2 separate regions of the Homo sapiens genome follow, and region 1 is linked to region 2. The links come from fine-mapping of genetic effects on gene expression. A gene starts in region 2. The other region holds a variant in brackets. All regions are shown on one strand. Distances are from middle to middle. Region 1 overlaps ZNF367 (zinc finger protein 367). Region 2 holds the start of SLC35D2 (solute carrier family 35 member D2).

The links. PIP is the estimated chance that this variant, and not a neighbour inherited with it, causes the effect.
Region 1: its variant is the best candidate, but not a certain one, in a credible set for the expression of SLC35D2 in whole blood (TOPMed, PIP 0.50).

What each region holds. Positions count from the first base shown.
Region 1 is chr9:96,411,470-96,415,861 of GRCh38, forward strand. All of the region lies in intron 1 of ZNF367 (zinc finger protein 367), which reads right to left. Among named protein-coding and RNA genes, the nearest start is that of ZNF367, 4.7 kb to the right of the region's middle. RefSeq lists enhancers at 1,737-1,906, 2,210-2,339. The variant T/C (reference allele first, on the strand shown) is at 1,705.
Region 2 is chr9:96,381,261-96,385,652 of GRCh38, forward strand. SLC35D2 (solute carrier family 35 member D2) reads right to left here and starts at 2,451. Exons shown (of 12, transcript NM_007001.3): 1 at 2,217-2,451. The coding sequence starts at 2,374. It overlaps SLC35D2-HSD17B3 (SLC35D2-HSD17B3 readthrough), which reads right to left and starts at 2,451. Exons shown (of 26, transcript NR_182427.1): 1 at 2,217-2,451. RefSeq lists silencers at 2,050-2,099, 2,110-2,439.

The DNA.
Region 1 (4,392 bases), 30 kb after region 2:
GGAGGATCACTTGAGAGTGGGAGTTCAAGGCTGCAGTGAGCCCTAACAGTGCCACTGCACTCAGCCTGGGTGACAGAGTGAGACTTCGTCTGAAAAACATAAAAAATAAGTAAACAAATAAATATGCAAGAACATATTGCTGACTTTTGCAATTTGAAATAACTGATTAGTTAACATAAAAAAAAAAGTTAACCATATGGCTGCCTCCCAGCAACTCTAAGAGACTGTTTCTGCCACCAGCAACACATTTATATTTTCCAAATGAGAAATGGAGTGAGTGCTGAAATATACAGCATAATACAACATACTGGCCATATACAGGGAAGGGTTCACTAAGTGCATTCTTTTGGGTTTTTTTGTTTTGTTTTTGTTTTTTGAGATGGACTCTGGCTCTGTCGCCCAGGCTAGAGTACAGTGGCATGATCTCAGCTCACTGCAACCTCCGCCTCCTGGGTTCATGCGATTCTCCTGCCTCAGCCTCCCAAGTAGCTGGGACTATAGGCAAGCGTCACCATGCCCAGCTAATTAATAAGTGCATTATTTTAGCTCAGAAAATAAGACAAAACAAATAATCATATAATGCCCTAAATAAATGAATAAAGACCATCTTTTAACAATACATATTAAAATAAGCAATGTTACTTAAAGAGGACCCTCTTCCTTTTGGCCTTAACAATGAGAAAACCATGTTTCTAGGCATCTTCGGACAATTACAGAGTGTTACACTCAGCAGCCAAGTGCACCTGGAGGCTAAGGACAGATCTTGTCAAGACTGTTGACGATTCGCAACACAAAATTATTAAATTGCCAAAAACTTTTGCATACCTTAGTAATTATAATTTTAAAAACAATCTCCATACCTCTAGAAGGTTGATTAGTGATTTTGAAAGTGTTTAGTCATGTGATAACTAAAAAACCTAAAAGTCCTTGACACATTTTTATAAGTAGAATTCAAATAAAGGGAACAAGCACAACCTAGAAGGAAAACAAAAATAGGTCTCAGAGGGAGGCGTGTGAACCTTTTCACATTCAGATTTAGATACAAACTTCCCATGACTTGCATACATGCTTCCTAACTTGTAACTACCTACTTCCCATCCTGACCTATCTTCACAACTTCTCAAGTTTTAATTCCAGTTTATTGAATTGAGTGCACTTTTATAAAGCATCTCAATTGAGACATAGATAAGCTATACATAGTATGTATTTCTTTTTTCTTTTTCTTTTCTTTTTTTTTTTTTTTTGAGACAGAATCTCGCTTAGTCGCCCAGGCTGGAGTGCAGTGGCACAATCTCAGCTCATTGCAACCTCTGCCTCCCGGGTTCATGTGATTCTCATGCCTCAGCCTCCCGAGTAGCCGGGACTATAGGTGTGCACCACCATGCCCAGCTAATTTTTTTGTATTTTTAGTAGAGACAGGGTTTCACCATGTTGGCCAGGTTGGTCTCAAACTCCTGGCCTCAAGTGATCCATCCACCTTGGCCTCTCAAAGTGCTGGGATTACAGGCATCAGCCAGCATGCCCGGCCAATAGTATGTATTTCTTATGTCTACTTATCTCAGCTTAATATTTAAAAAACAAAAATAAACCCCTGAAGTCTATTTACATGTGATAGTCCCAGGAGCAGTGCAGTATAGGGACTAAGAACAGGGACTCTAGAAGGTTCCGATCAGTTCTGCCACTTACCATACAATCTTAACTAGA[T/C]TTTGTCTTGGGGACTCTAATTTCTCATTCCTCATCAGGTAAACAGGATAAAATGAATTAAAGAATTCAAAATGCTCAACACAGAGCCCAGCAGTTTGCTGCTAACATTATGAAATGCTTACTCTGTGCCAGGCAATAAATAGTGCCTACTATGTTAACATGATGTTAGGTTTAACATGGTGCTCAAACATTACTATTCATAAATACTATGAATTTATGTATTATGTATAAAGTATTTAAAAATCAGCTATTCGTAACAGTATGTACAGTCTAGGTTTTGAAGTGTTCAGGTGACACAGAAAGGGGAAGTAGGATACGGCAGCCGGTAGATCCTGTAGGGTGAATAGTATCTGAGAAGCCAGACCCCACCAGCCCCAGTGAAGAAGTAACTTCAAATGCAGTCTTAGTAGAGGGCACAGGGACAAGGTGGGGAGCCTTGGAACAACTTGTGGCAGAAGGCAGTTAGACCTGCTTTCTTCCCTCTCAGAATTCTACAATCCAGAAGAAGATAATATATAATTATATGCCAACAGTGCTAAGCACTCGTGTGATGAGCAGCCAAAATAAGCTAGTAGGTGTTCCCACAGGCGAGGGAGGCAGTGTTGGGCAGGAACAATCAAAAGAGCAAGAGAAAGCTGACACAGGGTGTGCAGGACTCAGACGCTGACACCTCCCCTGGGAGAAGTGGCAAAGAATAGACAGTAAATGAACGCAAATATTGTTCTCAAACCCACAGCTGTTAGTGCCTCTATGTGGCATATTGGGAGAATGTTATTGGCACTGGCTATATTGCAGACTTGTCTCCTCTCTTCCCCAAAAATGAGCAGACTCAGCACAATTCCCTGATGATGCACATGGAGATAAGGAACTACAAGTACTTTAAAGAAGCAAAACAGTAAAACAGGCTGGGACTCTCTATCTTTGTAGTTCAGTGTACTGACCACAAATCAAACTAAGCAACTTCCTTATTTTTTTCTTTTTCCTTCTTGCCCCCACAAAGCTTAGTCTAGCTAGCAACTTTCTTAAATAAAGGTGTATTCCAGACCCTTCTGTCTTACGGTGGGAAAGCTAAATAAATGAATTTTTGGAGCTGCATGTGGATTGCTTCATCAATAGAAAGACATATTCAAATCAATTTACCAAATAATTTATGAAAGTTACAACAGGAAAAACTACATGAGAAAAGAAAAAAGCAGAAATATAAAACAGCCATTTCACTTTTACATGTTTTTTACAACCGTTGGTATACTTTACCTCTGAAAAGAGGTGTACAGCATGGAAATACAATTCAAACCCATGCATCTTGTTAGCAATTTTTTTTTTTTAAGACGGAGTCTCACTGTGGCCAGGCTGGAGTGCAGTTGCACGATCTCGGCTCACTGCAACCTCCGTCTCCAGGGTTCATGTGATTCTCCTGCCTTAGCCTCCCAAGTAGCTGGGACTACAGGGGTGTGCCACCACACCCAGGTAATTTTTGTATTTTTAGTAGAGACAGGGTTTCACCATGTTGGCCAGGATGGTCTCGATCTCTTGACCTCGTGACCAGCCAGCCTCGGCCTCCCAAAGTGCTGGGATTACAGGCGTGAGCCTCCGCGCCTGGCCACAGTTAGCAATTTTTATAAAATGTCTGGGTAAGGACAAGTCTGTTTTAGGCCAAAAACAACATACCTATAGATTTCATCTATATAACATTAATCTTCTTGGGTGATCCAGAACTAGATTAATCTATAAGAATAAAACCATAAAGGCAAAATCTTACACAAGAACTTATGAATGTATGCCTTTATATTGTTCAACTACATAATCTAATTTAGTGTTTTTTTTAAAAGACTAAAACTTATAAATGGTTAACACAAAAATACCTAGGATACCCATCCAAATTTTTTTTTTTTTTTTTCTGAGACAGAGTCTTGCTCTGTCGCCCAGGCTGGAGTGCAGTGGCACGATCTCGGCTCACTGCAAGCTCCGCCTCCCGGGTTCACGCCATTCTCCTGCCTCAGCCTCCCGAGCAGGTGGGACTACAGGCGCCAGCCACCACCCCTGGCCAATTTTTTTTTTTTTTTTTTTGTATTTTTAGTAGAGACGGGGTTTCACCGTGTTAGCCAGGATGGTCTCTATCTCCTGACCTTGTGATCCGCCTGCCTCGGTGTCCCAAAGTGCTTGGATTACAGGCGTGAGCCACCCACCCGGTGGATACCGATCCATCTTACATCTCACTAGGGGATACCTAGAGGCAGCCCAACAGCAACTGTAGCCTTTAGTAATACTCAGCAATACTATCAACGCTTCTATCGTTAGTTTCTTCATTTTTTTTTTTTTTTTTTTTTTTTTTTTTTTTTTTTGAGACGGAGTCTCACTCTGTCCCCCAGGCTGGAGTGCAATGGCGCAATCTCGGCTCACTGCAACCGCCGCCTCCCGAGTTCTACCAATTCTCCTGCCTTAGCCTCCCAAGTAGCTGGGATTACGGGCGCCCGCCACCACGTCCGGCGAATTTTTATATTTTTAGTAGAGACAGGGTTTCACCATGTTGGTCAGGCTGGTCTCGAACTCCTGGACCTCAGGTGATCCACCCGCCTCAGCCTCCCAAAGTGCTGGGATTACAGGCGTGAGCCACCGCACCTGGCAAGTTTCTTCAATTTTTGTTAAAGAGTTGAGGTCTTGCTTTGTCACCCAGACTGAAGTGCAGTG
Region 2 (4,392 bases):
CAGCCACAGTGATTTAGATCATGTAATTCCCCTGCCTGACACCTTGCGTGGCTCCCATCTCATTCAGAGCTGATGCCAGAGCCCTGGCGGTGGCCTCCCAAGGCCCCACACAGGCCAGCAATCCATTACTCTCAGACCCCATCTGCTACCATTCCCATTCAAACTCTTCACTCCTCCAGGCCTGGAATGCTCTTCCCCCGTCCCCCAGTGTGGCTTATGTCCCCACCTCACTCTGGTCTTGGCTCCAATGCCACCTCCTTCTGAGGCTCCACTGATCACGCTCACACTGCATACTCTCCCCTCCCTCTCTCCCTCACTCCCTTTCCTGTTTTATTTTTTCCCCAGCACCTTGGTCACATCTGACATAATGTAAATGTTACTGGCTCATTTATTGGTCCACAAGGATGCAGCTCCGTGAAGTTAAGGATTCTGATCTGCTCTTTTCACTTCTCTTTCCCAAGAACGGTGGGAAAACACTGTTCTCCTCGAACAGTGCTGGTACATCACAAGTGCTTAGTGAAAGCTATCAAAAATGAGAGAAAGAGCTGACTCCTGCCTTCCCTGCCTACCTCCCCGCCCAGGCACAGTGATCTTCTCTCTGTTCCTCCAGCAGCCAAGCTCATGCCCACTTCAGCACATTGTACACTTGCTGCTCACTTCTACCTGGAATGCTCTGTGACAGCTACTCCAGCCCAGGCACTCTCACATCAGATCTGAAAGTGTCTCGTTTATTCATGAACCTACCTGTTTATTTTCTGTCTCCACCACTGAAGCAGAATCTCCAGAGCAGGGACCTTGTGCTGTTCACAGAGGCTTCCCTGGTGCTTGCAATGGGCTCAGTATTTAGTAGGTGCTTAATAAATATCTGTTGGAGGTACAACCAATCGAGCTTATGTGGGCCTCAGTTTTCTCGAATATAAAATAAGAAAGGTGAGGCTGGATGAGATAGTTTGCACCTGTAATCACAGCACTTTGGGAGGCCAAAGCAGGCCTAGACCAGCCTTGGAAACACACTGAGACCCCACCTCTACAAAAAATCAAAAAAATTGCCGGTGCAGTGGTGCACACCTATGGTCCCAGCTTCTCTGGAGGCTGCAGCAGAAGGATTGCTTGAACCCAGATGGTCGAGGCTGCAGTGAGTCATGATTGTGTCACTACACTCCAGCCTAGGCAACAGAGTGAAACCTTGTCTCAAAAAAATATTATACACACACACACACACACACACACACACACTATATATATATATATATATATGCCTGCCTTGGCCTCCCAAATGCTGTGATTACAGGTGCAAACCACCTCAGCCAGCCTCAGCTTTCGTATTTTATATTCGAGAAAAGTGAGACCCACATAAGCTGAATCTGTATGTATATATAAAAAAAGAAAGCTGATACTCTAAGATACTCTCTAACTAAGACACTCTAGGTCTCTTTGGGCTCTAAAATGTTGATGGCATATTCTTGTAACATAGTAGAGTTTACAAAGAGCCTTCACATATAACAGCTCGTGCAGAGCCCTGGAGGGTAATTAACACGATTGTAATCATTCAGGTTTTTTGCATCTGAAAAAAATTGCTGACTGTGAGACTGGTCCAAAAAGACAGGTGTTAACCGGTGGAGCTGGGTCTAAATCCACAATTTTCTCAGTGCCGCTACAATGGTAGCAGAATTAAGCAGGATTTTCTAGTCCTTACAAATAGGTTCAAGGCAGCACAAATTTGCGTTTACTTCACACTAATCCAAAAAAGTACTCCATATGAACTTCCAATTGTTTTCCCGAGTTTTCCATGAACACGCTGGTCATCTGAGAATGAACAGTCAATCAATACAGACTTACTGGCTCAGGAGTACCTGACCGTTGAACATGGAGATCTGTGTAAGGAATTGCGTCCTTTGAAGCAGGCATTTGAATCCCTGTTTTCAGCTCGCTGGGTGTATGAAAGAATCTGTCTGAGCTCTACCAGCCCACCTAGGACAGGGCGCCTCGCAGCAGGGCAGGCGCGCTCAGGAAGAGAACGACTTTCTCAGGTTGTGGCCTGAGTGTAGAAAGCTGAGCGAGTTCTGGAGGGCGCCTGGGAAACTCGACCAATGTGCCCAGCTGAGACTCGAGGGTCCCTGTCCCCACCCGCCCTGTCCCGGGCGCCGCTGAAGCGCACGGAGGACAGGGGCAGCCCCGCACTCCCGCAGACCCCCCGGCCCCGGGCCCCGCCTCACCCGTAGGTGGTCAGCAGCGCCTTGTTGACAAGCACGATGAGGAAGGAGCAGGTCCCGTAGAAGAGCGCCGACAGCAGCCGGGCCACCCGCGAGGGCAGCCGCGCCGCGCCGGGCTCCCCGCCAGCGCCCTCGGCCTCGGCCTGGCCGCCGGCCGTCATCTCCTGCGGCCCCGCGGACCCCGCCGCCCGCCAGCCCCGGCTGCGCACTGGTCCCGCCCGGCCGGGCCGGGGAAGAGGGCGCGGCAGGAACAGGAAGAGCCCGGCGCAATCCCAGGTCCCGACCCGCCCCCTGCGAGCGCCCGAGGCCGGCGCGGGAGGACCCTGCGCGCTGGACTTCACCCTGGTTCCAGGCACCTCCTTCGGTCTCCAGGGCCGGCAATGCGCTGGGGAGTTGAAAAGCGCTGCCTTCCTCCAGGCTTTCCTGGAAAGAAACGCTTCAGTAAGTCTCAGGGCTTGTTTTGCTTTTTTTTTTTTTTCCCTACAACTTTTTTGTTTAGTGTATAATTTACATACAATGAAGTGTACACATCTTGCCAGTCCATAGTTTGAGATGAGCTTCGACAAAGGCATCCACAGGAGTAACTACTCAAAACAACATTTCCATCGCCCCAAAAATTCCCCTTGCTGCCCCTTTGAAGTTAACGCCCGCATCTCATCGATGACTATTGCTGTAGGTTAGGTTTGCCTTTTCCGGAATTTCAAATAAACAGGGTGCTTTCTAGAATTTATGAATGAGCATGTGGTCTCAGGGGTTTTCACTCTATGCTTTGGACTCGACCATGTGGTTTGTTTAATCGTTGAATAGTATCACAAATTGTGTATCCATTGGTTGTTTCCAGTTTAGGACCATTAGGAAAAATGCTTCCATGAAAATTCGTGGGCGTTTGTGGGACCTGTGTCTTCATTTCTCTTAAATAAATATCTAGGAGTGGAGTGGCTAGGAGTAAGGTGGGTGAAGCCTTGGGACTTGGGTGTCCTCTGGGTGCTTTGTGGTAGGTGCATTCCTCGCGGAGGGCCGTTTGCCTTCGGGTCAGGTCAGTTGAAGGACAGCTTCCCAGAACCGCCTACCCTTGTCAGTCTTTAAAAAATATGAACTTTTGGCCAGGCGCGGTGGCTCACACATGTAATCCCAGCACTTTGGGAGACCGAGGCGGGCAGATCACGAGGTCAGGAGATCGAGACCATCCTGGCTAACACGGTGAAACCCCGTCTCTACTAAAGATACAAAAAAAATTAGCCGGGCGTGGTGGCGGGCGCCTGTAGTCCCAGCTACTCAGGAGGCTGAGGCAGGAGAATGGCGTGAACCCGGGAGGCAGAGCTTGCAGTGAGGCGAGATCGCGCCACTGCACTCCAGCCTGGGCGACAGAGCAAGCCTCCGTCTCAAAAATATATATATTATATATTTAATATATAATGTATATTATATATATATATATATATGAACTTTTAGCTTCTTAGAAAAGCTTAAGATTTCAAGTTAAATAAAAGTTGGGGCCTAACTATATAGATGCCCAGAGAATTGTTTTTCTACCCTTAGGCACTAAACAACCAGGAGAATGAAAACTGGGAAACATTTTCAGCCCTGATAAGAACTAAAGCAGAACTCGTGAAAATTAGCTAGCATTAAAAAGACCAGAAGTGCCCAAGTTACCCAAAACAAGAAAGAAAAGACATGTTAAGTCCGTTTTAAAAGAGAAAATGAATCCATATTCAAGTTAAACAGGAAATCGGTCATTTTGGTTAATTTCCTCAGAACATTCAATTTTCTTGTGAGTCTCCAAATGTTTTGACTGCAAAAAGAATATTTTAAAGTTATTTTTAATGATGACCTTCATCATAATTGCATTTAGTTTGATTGTATACACATACTTCCAGGACCTTACCTCGCTGTCAAAATCCCATCCTTACCCTGTTTAAACAGCAACTCACACTAAGGAGTTGCTTGTGATATTCTTCTGCACAAGGGTAGGACAGGCTGACCCTTGCCACTGCAAATACACAACTAAAGATCTACCAAAAATAACTGATGAAAAAAGAAAACCAATTTGCTAGACTCTTAGAAAAGTACACAGGCTTTAAATGGATTCTTGAGGAGCTGACCCCAGAGACAACCCATCCTAAATGTAAGTGAAATGAAATCCCTTTTCCTTATTACCCTAATTTAAGGCCTGGAAATG